Linked DNA regions of Homo sapiens: region 1 is linked to region 2. Evidence: fine-mapped expression QTL. Tissue or cell type: whole blood. Region 2 holds a variant in brackets; the other region holds the start of a gene. All regions are shown on one strand. Distances are from middle to middle.

The links. PIP is the estimated chance that this variant, and not a neighbour inherited with it, causes the effect.
Region 1: it holds the start of HGD, and the variant in region 2 is fine-mapped to the expression of HGD in whole blood (INTERVAL, PIP above 0.99).

What each region holds. Positions count from the first base shown.
Region 1 is chr3:120,677,612-120,685,717 of GRCh38, forward strand. It overlaps HGD (homogentisate 1,2-dioxygenase), which reads right to left and starts at 4,628. Exons shown (of 14, transcript NM_000187.4): 1 at 4,486-4,628. The coding sequence starts at 4,500. RABL3 (RAB, member of RAS oncogene family like 3) reads right to left here. Exons shown (of 8, transcript NM_173825.5): 8 at 7,327-8,106. RefSeq lists an enhancer at 1-346.
Region 2 is chr3:120,566,782-120,574,887 of GRCh38, forward strand. No RefSeq gene overlaps it. Among named protein-coding and RNA genes, the nearest start is that of NDUFB4, 26 kb to the right of the region's middle. RefSeq lists a cis regulatory region at 5,337-5,557. The variant T/G (reference allele first, on the strand shown) is at 4,603.

The DNA of each region.
Region 1 (8,106 bases), 110 kb after region 2:
TTCGCCTCGGTCCTGTGGTCCTGTGATCTCACCCTGCCTCCACTTGCCTTGTGATATTCTATTACCTTGTAAAGTACTTGATGTCTGTGACCCACACCTATTTGCACACTGCCTCCCCATTTGAAAATCCCTAATACAAACTTGCTGGTTTTTGTGGCTTGTGGGGCATCACGGAACCTACCGAAATGTGATGCCTCCCCCGGATGCCCGGCTTTAAAATTTCTCTCTTTTGTACTCTGTCCCTTTATTTCTAAAGTTGGCCGACGCTTAGGGAAAATAGAAAAGAACCTACGTGAATATTGGGGCAGGTTCCCTGATACTCAGTGGCGTGGAGATGTAACAAGCCTGGATGTGTGAGTGATGATCAGGCCAACAACAGTCTGTATTTGGAAGAAATATCAGATGTGAATGTTATGACCTAGGAAGCAATGGAAGTGAAAAATTATTCTTTTTGCCTTCAGACTCAATATTTTGTATATTTGAAAATTTGTCAACACAAAAAATACTAAGTTGTATACTGATTTGTTAAAAGCAGCAGCATGCAGTTAGGATGATATCTTTGGGGAAATGGCAGAGACCATCCAACATTCTGATTCTCCACTGCATCCAATTTTCTACTCTCAAAATGAACCCCATGCTCACCATCAACGGGATTGAATTTGAGCTGCTGAGAATTGGTAATAACCCCAAATTATCTTCAATTCTGTGAAATGGAATTTTAGACCAGCCTGTGACTGAAGCCACTGGGCATTACAGTGCCTTCGCTTTGTTCAACTGCCGCATTGTTTCTCTCTGCAAGAGAGGAAGGAAGGCTGGAGTACAGCTGAGCTTTCTGGCAGGCACTGGTGGAGTTACTCATTAACCTTCCCCATTCTTTGTAACTGGTGGCCTTAGAAGAGGGTTCAGGGTTATGTGTTTGGAACACGAGTTAGTATAAATGGTTCTGAAGCACTTGATTCAGACTGTGCTTTAAAAAATAGGAAAGAAAGTAGAAAGAACAGCTGATGGTTTGGAAGGGAGCCACCAAGCACCAAGAGGTGTGAGTTCTGAATCCGTTTCTCAATCTTAGCTGCAGGGCATTGGCTAAAGAGGAAGGTGAAAACTGCTGAGTCACTATCAAATCAATTGGTTTTTCTAATCCCCTGAGAGAAAAAGTACAGAGTTTATTGCAGCTTTAAAATGCCATGCCCCTCACGGCCAAAGGCATCTGAATTAAGGAAGCAGTATTCACAGCTGCTTTCTCCAGACATTGAGCTCAAGGACAGAATCTGAACTCTGCTTTTATCAGCTGCGAAAATCCAAGCATTCATTTCCAGCTGGTTCAGTGCCTATGTAAAAGTATACTGTGTACAAAAATAAGATTAAAAAGCTAACATTAAGCAAGTGTGTTTGTATGTTTTCTACAGTTCGGATTTCTGAATAATTTGATCCGACAGAAAAATATGATTTCATTTCTTTTCGAGAGAATTATATGCATACTTTCTAAATGCAAGAATAAATTCCTGAGCTCCATGTGACTTCAGTACCATCAGCTCTTTGGCAGCTTATGAGTATACAGCTTTTTAATTCTCACCTGGTCCCCAGGATATGGTTTACTTGTCAGAGTAGTTTTATGAGGTGCTTTCTCCTGACTCTGATTCTAGGTAACACCTGATGAGATGAACAGATGGTGCACCTCACTTCCTCTTACTGGGCATGAAGGAAAGAGAGAGAAGTCAGGGTAGAGATGAAACTACTGCTACATTTTTTTTTTCTGTGGAAAAAGAGTCTAATATTTCTAATTAACCTTGATGGGAACATAGAACATAGATTGTAAAGGGAACTTGCACATTATCGCAGTAGGCTGAATAATGGCTAATGGCTCACTCTGAAAGATATGTATGGCTTAACCCCTGAAACCTGTGAGTATTATCTTTTCTAGCCAAACAGACTTTTGCATATATAATTAAGGATCTTGGGATGGGGAGATATCCTAATTATTTGGGTGTATCCTAAATGTAATCACAAGTGTCATTATAAGAGGGAGGCAAAGGGAGATTTGACTTATAAGAGGAGAAAATGTGACGTGATTACAAAAGCAGAGATACATTTTTTTGAAGATCGAGGAAGAGGCTACAAACCAAGGAATGTGGGTAGCCTCTAGAAGAGGAAACAGAATCCATGGAAAAGGCAGGAAAACACAATCTCTCATAGAGTCTCCAGAAGAAACAGCCACACTGACACCTCGACTTTAGCCCAGTGAAACCGATTTCAGACTTCTGACCTCCACAACTTCAAGATAATACATTTGTGTTGTTTTAAGCCAATAAATTTGTGGTAATTTTTTACAGCAGCAAGAGGAAATCAGTTACGTAGAATAGTAGGTCCTGTCTCTGGCTAATCATTAGAATCACTCCAGAAGCTTGTTACATACAGACCCAGAGCCAGTGAATCAAGGATTTGGTGGTGGGGCCCAGAGCCTGAATATTAAGCAAGTTCTTCGTTTTAGAAATGAGGAAACCAAGGTTGGGAGAAGCTAAGCAACTTACTCAAATACATAGGGTATTTCATTTTAAATTTAATTTTATTACTTTATCTTTTGAATTTTCTTACCCCAGTTGTACTTTTGTGTAAATGTGATTTCATTTACGGCTTTGTGTTGACATATTCATTAAAATGAAGAAATAAAAGATGAGAAACAGTTTTAAAAATTATATAATGTTTATTGATTAGAATGAATATGATGCAATCTGGTTTTCTGTGTTCAGATTCCTGACCTCTGGAGTTAACCTTTCTTTGTAAAGATTAGACAGCAGGCAGGGAAGAATGCCTTTGAAACTGAGAGCAAAGACTGGCATGCAATTTACATTGATGTCCTGGTGCTGTGCATAATAAGTTGCTTAAACATGACAGCAGGATAGGATTTTACATAAAATTTATTTATAAATGGTAAAGATGTTTCCAACCTCTGCTGAACTTCCTCATAGAATGTTCATCAGAAAACAAAGTTTCTATCTACTCTTTCTTCCAAGACTTCAACTCCTACCACTGACATCATGACCCTCAGTTCTATTCCCCTAGCCCTGCCCACTCCCCTGAAATCCAGATCCATAAATCCAACCACCGCCTGGGTATCTCAGTTTGGCTGTCCCTCCATCAACTCAAATTTGGCTGACACAGTTTTGGATTCTAGAGCATGCAGGCATTCTGTATGTGCTGTGCCTTTGCACTCACTCTTCCCTCCAGACCCCGTCCTTCCTCACTTTGCCAGTTCCAACTTCTCTCTGAAGACTCAGTTTAGGTACAGGCTCCTTTAGGAAATTTTTTTTTGACTCTACCTAGCCCAGACTCAGTTCATCTACGATATTAATCTGCAGTGTCATGCACTAGCACAAAATATTTGCTGAATGAAAGAATGAGAGTTAACTTTTAGTCAGGCATAAAGATAAAAAACCAAAGTCTTTTACTCCGGTGTGGAGTGTTTTCAGGATTCCTACCAATTAGGAAGGTGTTTGATTCTTCAAACTCAGAAACACCTCCCCTTAACTGATGGATTCTTCAAACTCAGCATCAGTTAGAGGGCATTAGGGCACTTCTCAAACCCTGCATTCAGGGAAGATGTCTGTTGTGGGGTGGTCTGGCCTACTTGGCCTGAGCCAAGGTTCTGGGCAGTTCTGTTCAGTTACACATGCATGCGTTGAGCATTGATTCAAGCCTGGCCTGGGCACTAGGCATGGTTTTAGATATTAGGGACATATTCTGTTTTCCTTGCCTTAAGATACCAGTCTAGTAGGAGCCACTAAGGCCCCTTTTTGAGCCTGGACTTCGCATTCAAACATACCCTGCTTCTAATCAAGTCATCTATTGGCAGTGACCTTGGGCAAATCATAGTCTCTCCAAGCATTACTTTTCTAATTGAAACAAGAACCTCTCTCTATACCCCAGATTTATTTTGAGGATTATGAGTTAATTCATAGCTAAAATGCTTAGCACCTAACAGCACATAACCCACACATACTTTTCAATTGCGTATTACTAAAAAGAAGGAATGATTTCCTAGAGGAGGTGCTTCTTCTGGCCAAGGGCTGATTCAGAGCCTTAATTAACTAAATAGATCAAGCATATCTAACTGGTCACCGGAAGTGGTCCATGAGGCTGCAGCAATGGGAAGGTGTCAGAGCAGGGGTTGGGAAAAAGACATAGAGAGAAACGTGCATGTCCGTAGTGGAGGGGAGCTCTTAGGATGTCTACAGATTTCCAAGACAATAATTGAAATGAACAAAGGCAAGGGATGACCAATAAGAGCTTCATTTCTTTCCTTTATCACCTTTCCCTTGTTCTTCAGCTCCAGCTGTGCCCACAGACACCACAGGGAAGCCTCTGAACACAGGGGTTTGAACCAGGGCCTCTCTAAGTCTTTTCCAACTCTGATACCCTGAAGTTCTCAGAAACTTCCATAAATTTTGGCTGAAGAAGCCATAGCAAACTTGTCAGATGGTTTCTTACCTTTAACTCAGCCATTTTCTCTCTCCTCTATGTGTGGTGACTTCAGGAAACCCAGGCCCAGAGGATATAAAGCCACAATGCTTCTTTCTCCTTCAAACCACTCTTTGGATATTCCGGTTCCCACTGCTTCACTGCGCTTCACTGGTCAGTGCGTCACTCAAACTAGCTGAAAGAATTGTCTAACTCATACACAGGGACAAAGTCCAGCAAGCTTATTTAACCGGTTACACAATTGCCTTTGGTTTTTACAGTTTGTTCCTAAGTGTTTCCAGAGGCTTGGTTCCTCTTCACCTGAGGTAGAGATTGACCAATTATTTATTCCAGTTAAAAGTAGGCTTATTTCAAAAGGCAGAGAATTTGAAGCTATCGGGGAAAGGAACTGTGGCAGATAGTGCCTGCTGTGTGTGGTGGAGGATTCTCTGCTCAGTCCTGACTCAGGCTAGGAAGGAACAGGGCAGTGCTGAGTCTCCTGGAGAGCAGTGAGAAAACCCCCAGGCATTTACCAGCTGCAGATGTGTACACTGGGGTAAGATGTTTACACACAGCCACCTGAAGACAGGGACCAGGACCAGAACCAGTTTTCTGCAGGTGCCTCCCAGGAATGAGCTCAGGTTCTTGGGTGAACCATTCAGAGCCTGAGATATTTCACTTAGAGCAAACTGATATGTTTCCTACTGCTCCTTTTAATTTCTTAAAGTACGTTTAGTTTTCTTATAAATTCTTTAAGAGTTTTGTTTCCTAATGCCTCTATACTTCTAAAACAGACCAAGGGATTATTCTCCAGCCACCTCCTCTATGACTCCCTTGTTCTTCATCTTGGCCGCTCTCCTTGGTCATTGGCAGGTAGCAGCTTCATGACTAGTGGTGTTCAGAAAGGAGAAAACATATATTGAGTTTCTGCTTTTGTCAGATTTTTCCATATCTAACTTCACAAAAACAATCTTGTAAATTAGGCATTATCACAACTCAAATGCCAACAGATGAGGGAGGAAGTGTAAGTGAATAAAGTAGGCTAGCTGATTTTTCAAGATAAGATGAAGCTCCAATTTTTAACCATTGGTAATTAGAGTGAGAGAGACAGAGAAACCACCCTGTGGTAGATGGCAAAAAATGCTCCAATTCCTCCTATCCTTGTATGTGTGCCCCTTTGAATGTGACTTTGCTGTTCCTCCCATCAAGAGGTAGGGTCTTTTTCTTTGGCTAGTAGCAAACATGACACAGAGTTTGAAACATGCCTGTGCCTTAGGACAGGGCCCATTCTTGCAGCCTGAGACCACAGTGCAGAGAAGCTGGGCTGGCCTCCAGAGGTCCAGGCAACAGCCCTGCAAGCCCCACAGGAACTGCCAGACATGTGAATGAGGCAGTCTGGCTGCCAGGTGACTGCAGAACATGTGTGATCCCAGGCAAGACCAGCAGAAGAACCACCAGTTAAATCTGGCCCGAACTGCTGAGCCACAGAATTGGGAACAAATAGAATGGTGTATTTCACACTACTAAATTTTGGGGTGGTTTGTTAAGCAGTGATAAATAACTGATATAATCATGCAGGTTGAAAAACATGTGCATATTTGAAGTGGCCACAGGCTGCTAGTTTGAGACCCTCTGCTTTAGATAAATGGGCTTAAACAACCTCCAAGGGTCCCCAGGCTCCAGCATACTGCAGTAGCAGCAGAATTATTGCCTGTGTATGAGGTGCTAGCACAGACTGGGCCAGACCAAAGGGGACATGTTGATAGGAAACATGCTGGTAGCAAACCATGTGGACTGATGCCTACGGACCGGGCAGCTGATAGGAAACCTCAGCATATGTCAGCATAGACAGATGGCATTGTGGCATTATATAAACTATTCTGGAATTCATATGCAAACCTAGGAGGAAGGTAGGTGGAGGCCCTAGCTTTATTGAGGCTAAGTTTTCACTATTCCTATAACATGCAGACTCTGAAACTGAATTCGAAGAAAATATCTCCTGTGTATCTAAGTTTATGAGTACCTTGGGCCTTCAATCTCTATTGATCTTGGAAGTTAGCAGTTGGTCATTAGATAAACAAATGGGAGCTAATAAAAGACAAAGGGAAATCTTTACTGCCTTATTTTTCAACAAACTTTCTATGTTACTTCCATTGAACCAGTTGTGAAGGCAGATTTAAGAAGTGTTTCAGTTCTTTCCTAAGGTATGAGAGACTTCTGAAGGGGTAAGAAAGTGTTAACAGTTCCTTGACTGGATTAAAATTACTTTGAGGGGCTTGAAAATATTTAAAGTTGAATACATCTTTCACTAAACTTTAGGGATTCCTTCTAAAAGGAGAGAATACACACAGGGGATATTAAAATATTATTTTATTATTTAATTTTTTTTTTGAGACAGGTTCTCTGTCATCCAGGCTGGAGTGCAGTGGCACAAAAATGGCTCACTGAAGCCTCAACCTCCTGGGCTAAAGCGATCCTCCCATCTCAGCCTCCTGAGTAGCTGGGACTACAGGCACACACCACCACACCCGGCTACTTTAAAAATTTTTTAGTAGAGATGAGGTCTCGTCATGTTGCCCAGGCTGAACTTGAACTCCTAGGCTCAAGCAATCCTCCCACTTCAGCCTCCCAAAGTGCTGGGATTACAGACGTGAACTCCTGCACCTGACTTAATGTTTTTTTTTAGAGACAGAGTCTTGCTGTGTCATCCAAGCTGGAGTGCAGTGGCATCATCACAGCTCACTGCAGCCTTTAACTCCCAGGCATAAGCCATCCTCTGGCCTCAGCCTCCCAAAGTATTGGAATTACAGGCATAAGCCATCATGTCCTGCTGGGATTGGAGAATAAATAACTTACACAGCTACAGATAAGTTCTGATTCTATGTCTAATGGCTTTCCATTTTAATTAATGTAATTATACATTCATTTATTTAACAATTTTTGAAAACCATCACAACATAGTGTAAGTGCTCTGACAGGAAAGAGCCCAGGGATCTAGGGGAAGCACTAGTGGGCACGTAGCCCAGACGAGCAGAGCCAGGGAGGGCTTCCCAGAGAAGACTATGTCTGAGCCAAGTCCCATAGAGTAAGAGTTGGATAGAAAGTGGAAAACATTACATCCAGGAATTGCTACAAGGTAATGTGAAGCAGGGTGTGACAGGTCTACAGAGTAATCACTCCAAAACGGAGTTAGGCATCAGAGGACTCCAGGACAGATGTCTCCGAGAAAAAGATGGAACGGAGAGATTACCTGATATACTTGATGGTACTGAGCGAGGTTTTACACCTTGGTTGGAGTTTAGGGGTTCCATTCTTTGTCATTAGTTATTGATGACCTCGGTAAAGCTTAGTGATTAGCCAGCTGAGAAAACACAGTACTAGAGAGGGGGCTGTGTGTAAGATGGCAAGGCACTGGTTAGAAATAAATATATTTGGATTAAAAACAGAACCCAGGGGAAAAACAGTGGCAGTAATAAAAATGATAGCAATACATGAAAGACAAATACTTGTTTTGCCAACAGAAGACATGACAATCATCTCATGTTTAATTTGGCATATGTAGCTTTGAGTGGGGAGGAGTGGATCAGTTCATTAAGGTGAGATCAGGTTGAGGCAGTCAAAGATGCGCTTTGATGAATTCTGCTATAATGG
Region 2 (8,106 bases):
ACTTCTGCTGCATGTTAATTAGGCACAGCACCAGCTGACCCTGCTCACTGGGAAGTTCTATGTCAGAGTTCTGTTGCATACTGACCTTTAATAGCCTTAATGATTTAATCATTTTATAGATTGAAAACACTGAGGTCCAGAGACGTTGTGACTTGTCTGAGTTCTCACAAACGATAAACGGAGGCAAGAGTCTGAAATGCTTCGTGCTCCAGCGCCTGAGAGCTCTGGTTTGGCCCCTTCATCTGCCGTGCATTTCACCTTCCTTTCTTATTGTGCCAATATAGTAAAAATAATTTTTTTTCTAACACTAAGCTATTATTTTAAGTTTCTGTTTTCTAACAGGTACAAACTGGTTAGACTCGTCCTGGCTTAAGTGACCGTTAATTTAGTAAATCTCCTTGGATTTTGTGACTGTTACGCTAAAAGCCTTAAAAATAAATGTAGTAAGAAGCTGCCCTTGGGTCCAGCAGAGAAGAAGATAAAATTGGATCCTTTTCAAAGCCAGTGTTTACACTCAGATGCCTCTGGCTTTCTCATTTACTTTAATAAGCTATTTCACGAGGTAACTTTATCTTTACAGATACTTTTTTTTTTCTGAAGGAGAGATGGTTTTTAGCAGAGAGCAAGGAACTTAAAATCAAGAGGTTTGCGCTCTAGTCCCAATTCTGCTCAGTAACCCTAGACCAGTCACCTGCCCTCTGTGAGCCTAAGACTGGATGAGGGGTTTCTAAGCTGTGGTCAGTGGGGCCTCAGGATTTCCATGACGTATTTCTGGGCTACTGCTGGAGACCTACAGTGAAGGCTCAGAGGCTGCCGTCCCAGAACCACACTGCCCCCTTGTCTCCCTCCCTCCCCTACTCAGAGCAGCTCTCCTTTTATTTGTTTTAAAGGGGAGAGTCTGCATAAGATTTTATTTAAAAGAAAAGTTCTGCTGTTGTTAGTATATAAAAATCACCAGAACAGTTAGATGATCTGAAAGATCTTTTCCAGCTCTAACATTCTGGGGTGTCTGAGTTTAAAGATCGGCTCTTGCTTTACTTTTTTAGCTACCTCTTTGCTCCACGGACATGCAAACCAATCATCTCTAAATTATAAATATTCTCTCTGCTGCCCCCAGCTGACTGCTAGCTATGTATTATGCTGGCTGTAAAGATCCTGGAAATGAGCTTGTCTGCTACTCCTGCCCTAATAGTGTTGTGACCAGCAGGGAAGAACATTTGTAGCAGTACTTATTTGCTGATCAGGGATTTTATTTTTTTTTTAAGCTTGCATTTGCTTTAACCGCTTAGGAAAAACAGTTCCAGAACTATCCCCAGCCCTGACCAGCACAGCAGCATCCTCATTCGTATGCTGCTGCTTTGTCTGGCAAAAGGCATTCTACCATGCCATTCCTAACCGCTCCCCACTGTGGTAAGCAGCTATTCGGATTGGATCCCACATCCTCTCTTGGATATTTTGTTTTTCAGGCTGTCTGTCTTACTGCATGCTCCCAAAGTTTCCTCTGAAAGCTAGTGATCTTTGGCTGCCACTGCAGTCCGGCCAGGCCTGAGCCAGGCTGTGCCTGCCCAGCCCTACCTAGAGCACCACAGACCTTTCTGGTGCTGATTTATTTCACACGCACTGTGCCTGCTTTGCCCAGAGTAGAGCAAGACCAATTTTTCCTTTACAAATACATGATTTAAACTTTCATCAAAAATTAACTGGTGCTAAAAGCAGACAAAGACAAATCAGCATTTTCTACTCACTACATGTCAGTAAGGTTCAAGAATTTGCTGCTAGATGTGTAAATCAGGATATAGGATGGGAGAAGCAAACACTGATCACACTCTGAGTGTTCCTTACCTCCCTTCATCCTTATAATAACCCTCCTAGGTAGATATTCTCATCTCCATTTGTTAGAGGAAGAAACAGGCTGGGGGAGGTAGAATAACTTGTGTAGACACACAGTTAGGAAGTGGCAGATGCAGGAATTGAACTTGTTCTATCTGGCACCAAATGCCTTGTTCTTTCCACGACACCATGCTGCCTTCTTGATGAGCATGCTGACTCATTTGGGAAGTTATGTAAGCTTGCAAATCACATTGAGATTCCCAGATAATGTGACTGCATAAAGAAGAACAAGGTGCTGCCACGAGTGGCTTTGGTGCAGTGACAGAAACACAGGGGAGAGGCTCTGCACTGTCGAGAAGGGGTCAGCAAAGCTGTTGAGAGGAGATGGGCTGCACCAGTGGGCCCCAAACCACAGGCAATCATTTATCTCTTCCCTTCCCAACCTGTTCTGCAAATAAACAGATTTTAATTATAAATATATGAATAAAGCTATCTATCCATTTAATTCACGTTACTGAAAATCCAGTCCAAGCTTTGACCACCTGCAGAAGGTATGCCAAAGGTGCCCAGGGTCAGATGGCTTGGCACCACTCCAGTCACCTGCATCAGGTGAAATAAGCAAGGTAGGTCTTTAGCATCATCCACATATGCTTTTATTGACTAGAGGAGTGTCATAATCAGATTTGCACCTCGGGAAGTTATCCCAGGCCTCTGTCGGGAAAGGGAGAAGGGAGGCAATGCAGCGGTGCTGTCAGTGCCCCGCCCACGTCCAATTAGTATGCACCCCACACCCCCAAGGCCTGTGACCCTCTGTGCTCTGGCTTGGCAGCATGCATAGCCCATACACAGTGCAGGAGTGCAGGCCAGATGTGCTGGGGGGTTGATGTCCCTGAGATCAGCCCTCAAACAATGAGGAACAGGAGAGTTGATGGGTAAACACCCCAGCTTCCTTGCCTGTTGGTTGGGATAACTCTTAAGTCGTATTCTACTCTGTGTCTCAGAGTTTCTCAGTGAGGTGGAGCTCCAGTGGAGTTTCTCAGTGGCATGGAGCTCGGCAGTGCTTAGTAACACATCCTTTATTGGCTTCTTTCACTTCCCTGTCCTGCTCCCTGAATCAGCTCCCAGGGATTCCTGAGATCACCTCTCAAATGAACTATTTATAGTAGAATCCATGTTTCAGGTTTCGTTTCCAGAGGAAGCCAGATAAAGACCATTCAGAAGCCGGTGTGGTGGCTCATTCCTGTAATCCCAGCACTTTAGAAGGCTGAGGTGGGTGGATCACTTGAGGCCACGAGTTGAAAACCAGCCCGGCCAACATGATAAAAGCCTCATTTAAAAAAGAAAAAAAAACACCATTCAGTACTTTGTGCCGAGATGGATAATGTGCACTAGACAAAGGGAACAGAAGTAGGAATGGAGAAGAGGGGGTTGCTATGAGAAATATTCACTCTGAGATTTAGAACTTCAAAATAAGAAACTCCTACATTTAATAGCAGTAATTAAAAAAAAACTAACCCCTAATTTTAAAAATAGGCTAAGGACTGGAATAGACATTTCTCCAAAGAAGACATACAAATAGCCAGCAGGTATAAGAAAATGTTCAACATCACCAATCATCAGAAAAACGCAAATCAAAACCGTAATGAGATACCACCTCACACCTGCTAGGATGGTTGTTATATATATAAAGATAACAAGTGGTGGTGAGGATGTGGAGGAAATTGGAACCCTCATATGCTGTTGGTAGGAATGCAAAATGGTGCAGCCACTATGGAAAACAGTGTGAAGTTCCTAAGAAAATTAAAAATAGAACTACCATATGATCCAGCAATCCCACTTCTGGATATTTATCCAAAAGAATTGAAATTAGGATCCCAAAATGATATTAGTATACCCATGTTCACTGCAGCACTATTCACAATAGCCAAGATGTGAAAACAACTTAAATGTCCATCAACAGATTAATGGATAAAAAGAAAATGTGGTACATACATACAACGGAATATTATTCAGCCTTAAAAAGGAAATTTGGCAATGTGTAACAATACAGATGAACCTTAAGGACATTACACTAAGTGAAATAAGCCAGTCACTGAAAGGCAAATATTGCATGACTCCACTTATATGAAATATCTAAGATGAAGTATCTATGATTCAAATTAATAGAATCATAGAATGGTGGTAGCCAGGGCTGGGAAGAAGAGGAAATGGGGAATCACTAACAATGAGCATTGTGTCTCAGTCAAGCAAAATAAATAAGCTCTGGGGAGCTGTTGTACAACCTTGTACCTATAGTCAACAATAATGTATTGTACACTTAATATTTTGTTAAGAAGGTAGATCTCGTGTTAAATGTTATCACGATTTTAAAAAACTGGTTAAATGGAGGGGTAAGAGAGAAAGGAGGGAGAGAAAAGACTCTACAAGAATTCTGAGTCTCTGGCTTAAGCTCCTGGGTGGATACTGATGCCTTACACTGAACTAGAGAATACATTTCAGGGGTAAGAAAGTAAATCCAATTTTGGATATGTAGGAGAAAGTGACATCTGGCTCTGTGATGTCATTTGCAAAAATGAAAGTGCCCCCTTTGCCAAAAGCATCTTCCCAAACCTCTTACCATAGGGCTTGAAATTCTCTATTACTCACTTATTTGGCTTGCTTTTTCCAGAACACTATTTTTAAAATGCTCCTGAGATTATTGATACTTTTGTTACGTGTGATAATAGCATTGTGGTTATGTAGAAAAAAACCTCCTTAACTGTTAGAAATACA[T/G]GCCAAAGTATTTAATGGATAATATAAAACACTGTGAGGGACTGCTTTCAAATAATCCAGCAAAAAGAAAAATGAAGGGTATATCTAGGGGGATGGATAAAACAACATGGAAAAATATTTAAAATGATAAAAGCTGGAGAATGAATACAGTGGGTCCATTATACCATTTCCTCTACTTTTGTGTGTGGGAAGTTTCCATAACAAAAAAAAAAAGAAGTTACCCTGGTATTTTTAAGATGCTCTTGGCAGGATATCTTATCCAATTGTCTTTAACACCTGTGAAAGAACAACCACAAAAGTGTGTTTTGAAACTTTGGTTGGATTTCATATATTTAGAATATTTAGAAGAAAAGGAGGCTGGTTCTTTCAAAAAATAGACTTGTGAGGAGCTGGATTTTAAAAGAGAGAAGAAACCAAGATTCAGATGTAGAATTTCATATGTTTTTGCCAACCATGTGATTCCTTCCACCATTTTCCAGAGCATAAGAAGGCATCTCATGACCCTCCATCATGCCTTACCACGATGGTCCCACATCAGGGCCTTTGTGTGCATGCTGTCATTTTATCTCCAAAACGCTCTCTAGGCACCCATTTCAAAGATGAAGGAACTCAGGCTGGAGAGGTCAGGTTTTCTGCCTATAGACCATAGAGTAATCAATTCCAGGGGCATTGGGAGAAGGGCCCAGGTTTGACGTTCCATGTATCTGACTCCAAAGTCTGGTATATTCCACAGCCTTCAGTCTAGTTTGCTGTGGTTGACCTTAGGTCACCTTGCCATTCCAAGAAGTGGTCATTCACAAACTGGCTTCAGCAGAATTGACTTTCTGGGAATCAGCCTGCTTCTGCTGAGGACAAGCTTAAACCAACAAAAATCAACAGCATGCCTCCTTGGGCAGGGACAATAGGGTGATAGAGTTCATAGACTAAGTGAGAACTGTCAGGAAAGCATTGTGTCCGTTTCCTCCAAAGCCTTGAGGCATTGGCAGGGTTTGACAGGAAGGGTGGAGGTGGGCACAACACCTAGAAGAGCAACTGGGTGAAAAGCAAAGATAAATGGAACTGTAAAAAAGCATATAATTCCATAAGCAAACATAAAATGCTTTAAAAAGTGGTGTTTCCTTATCTAAGTACTTACTGATGCTTTTTAGAAAACCAATCTTAAGGCTGGGGCCGGCGGCTCATGCCTGTAATCCCAGCGCTTTGGGAGGTCAAGGCGGGTGGATCACCTGAGGTGAGGAGTTCAAGACAAGCCTGACCAACATGGCAAAACCCCGTCTCTACTAAAAATATAAAAATTAGACGGGTGTGGTGACGGGTGCCTGTAATCCCAGCTACTTGGGAGGCTGAGGCAGGAGAGTCACTTGAACCCAGGAGGCAGAGGTTGCAGTGACCCAAGATTGCACCACTGGACTCCAGCCTGGGTGACAGAGGGAGATGCTGTCTCAAAAAAAAAAAAAAAACCAACCTTAAAGTCAAGCAAAGGAGATAACTAAGTAAATTATAATTATTTCCTACTGTTGGAGTATTACATGTCCATAGTTTATGGATGTTATTATCCATAATAAAGATTATGGAAAACTGTTTATTTAAAAAATTTAACTGAAAAAGCAGAATATAGAATACATATAGGATAAGGGCAGTCAAGATGGCCGAATAGGAACAGCTCCGGTCCATAGCTCCCAGCATGAGCGACGCAGAAGACGGGTGATTTCTGCATTTCCATCTGAGGTACCGTGTTCATCTCACAAGGGAGTGCCAGACAGTGGGCGCGGGACAGTGGGTGCAGCACACCGTGCACAAGCCGAAGCAGGGTGAGGCATTGCCTCACTTGGGAAGCACAAGGGGTCAGGGAGTTCCCTTTCCTAGTCAAAGAAAGGGGTGACAGACGGCACCTGGAAAATCGGGTCACTCCCACCCGAATACTGTGCTTTTCCAACGGGCTTAAAAAACGGCACACCAGGAGATTATATCCCGCACATGGCTCGGAGGGTCCTACGCCCACAGAGTCTCACTGATTGCTGGCACAGCAGTCTGAGATCAAACTGCAAGGTGGCAGCGAGGCTGGGGAAGGGGCGGCCGCCATTGCCCAGGCTTGCTTAGGTAAACAAAGCAGCCGGGAAGCTCCAACTGGGTGGAGCCCACCACAGCTCAAGGAGGCCTGCCTGCCTCTGTAGGCTCCACCTCTGGGGGCAGGGCACAGACAAACAAAAAGACAGCAGTAACCTCCTCAGACTTAAATGTCCCTGTCTGACAGCTTTGAAGAAAGCAGTGGTTCTCCCAGCACACAGCTGGAGATCTGAGAATGGGCAGACTGCCTCCTCAAGTGGGTCCCTGACCCCTGACCCCCGAGCAGTGTAACTGGGAGGGACCCCCCAGTAGGGGCAGACTGACACCTCACACGGCTGGGTACTCCTCTGAGACAAAACTTCCAGAGGAACGATCAGACAGCAGCATTCGCGGTTCATGAAAATCCGCTGTTCTGCAGCCACCGCTGCTGTTACCCAGGCAACCAGGGTCTGGAGTGGACCTCTAGCAAACTCCAACAGAGCTGCAGCTGAGGGTCCTGTGTGTTAGAAGGAAAACTAACAAACAGAAAGGACATCCACACCAAAAACCCATCTGTACATCACCATCATCAAAGACCAAAAGTAGATAAAAACCACAAAGATGGGGAAAAAACAGAGCAGAAAAACTGGAAACTCTAAAAAGCAGAGTGCCTCTCCTCCTCCAAAGGAATGCAACTCCTCACCAGCAACGGAACACAGCTGGATGGAGAATGACTTTGACAAGTTGAGAGAAGAAGGCTTCAGATGATCAAACTACTCTGAGCTACAGGAGGAAATTCAAACCAAAGGCAAAGAAGTTAAAAACTTTGAAAAAAATTTAGACCAATGTATAACGAGAATAACCAATACAGAGAAGTGCTTAAAGGAGCTGATGGAGCTGAAAGCCAAGGCTCGAGAACTACGTGAAGAATGCAGAAGCCTCAGGAGCCGACGCGATCAACTGGAAGAAAGGGTATCAGTGATGGAAGCTGAAATGAATGAAATGAAGCGAGAAGGGAAGTTTAGAGAAAAAAGAATAAAAAGAAATGAACAAAGCCTACAAGAAATATGGGATTATGTGAAAAGACCAAATCTACGTCTGATTGGTGTACCTGAAAGTGATGGGGAGAATGGAAACAAGTTGGAAAACACTCTGCAGGATATTATCCAGGAGAACTTCCCCAATCTAGCAAGGCAGGCCAACATTCAGATTCAGGAAATACAGAGAACGCCACAAAGATACTCCTCGAGAAGAGCAACTCCAAGACACATAATTGTCAGATTCACCAAAGTTGAAATGAAGGAAAAAATGTTAAGGGCAGCCAGAGAGAAAGGTCAGGTTACCCACAAAGGGAAGCCCATCAGACTAACAGTGGATCTCTCAGCAGAAACTCTACAAGCCAGAAGAGAGTGGGGGCCAATATTCAACATTCTTATAGAAAAGAGTTTTCAACCCAGA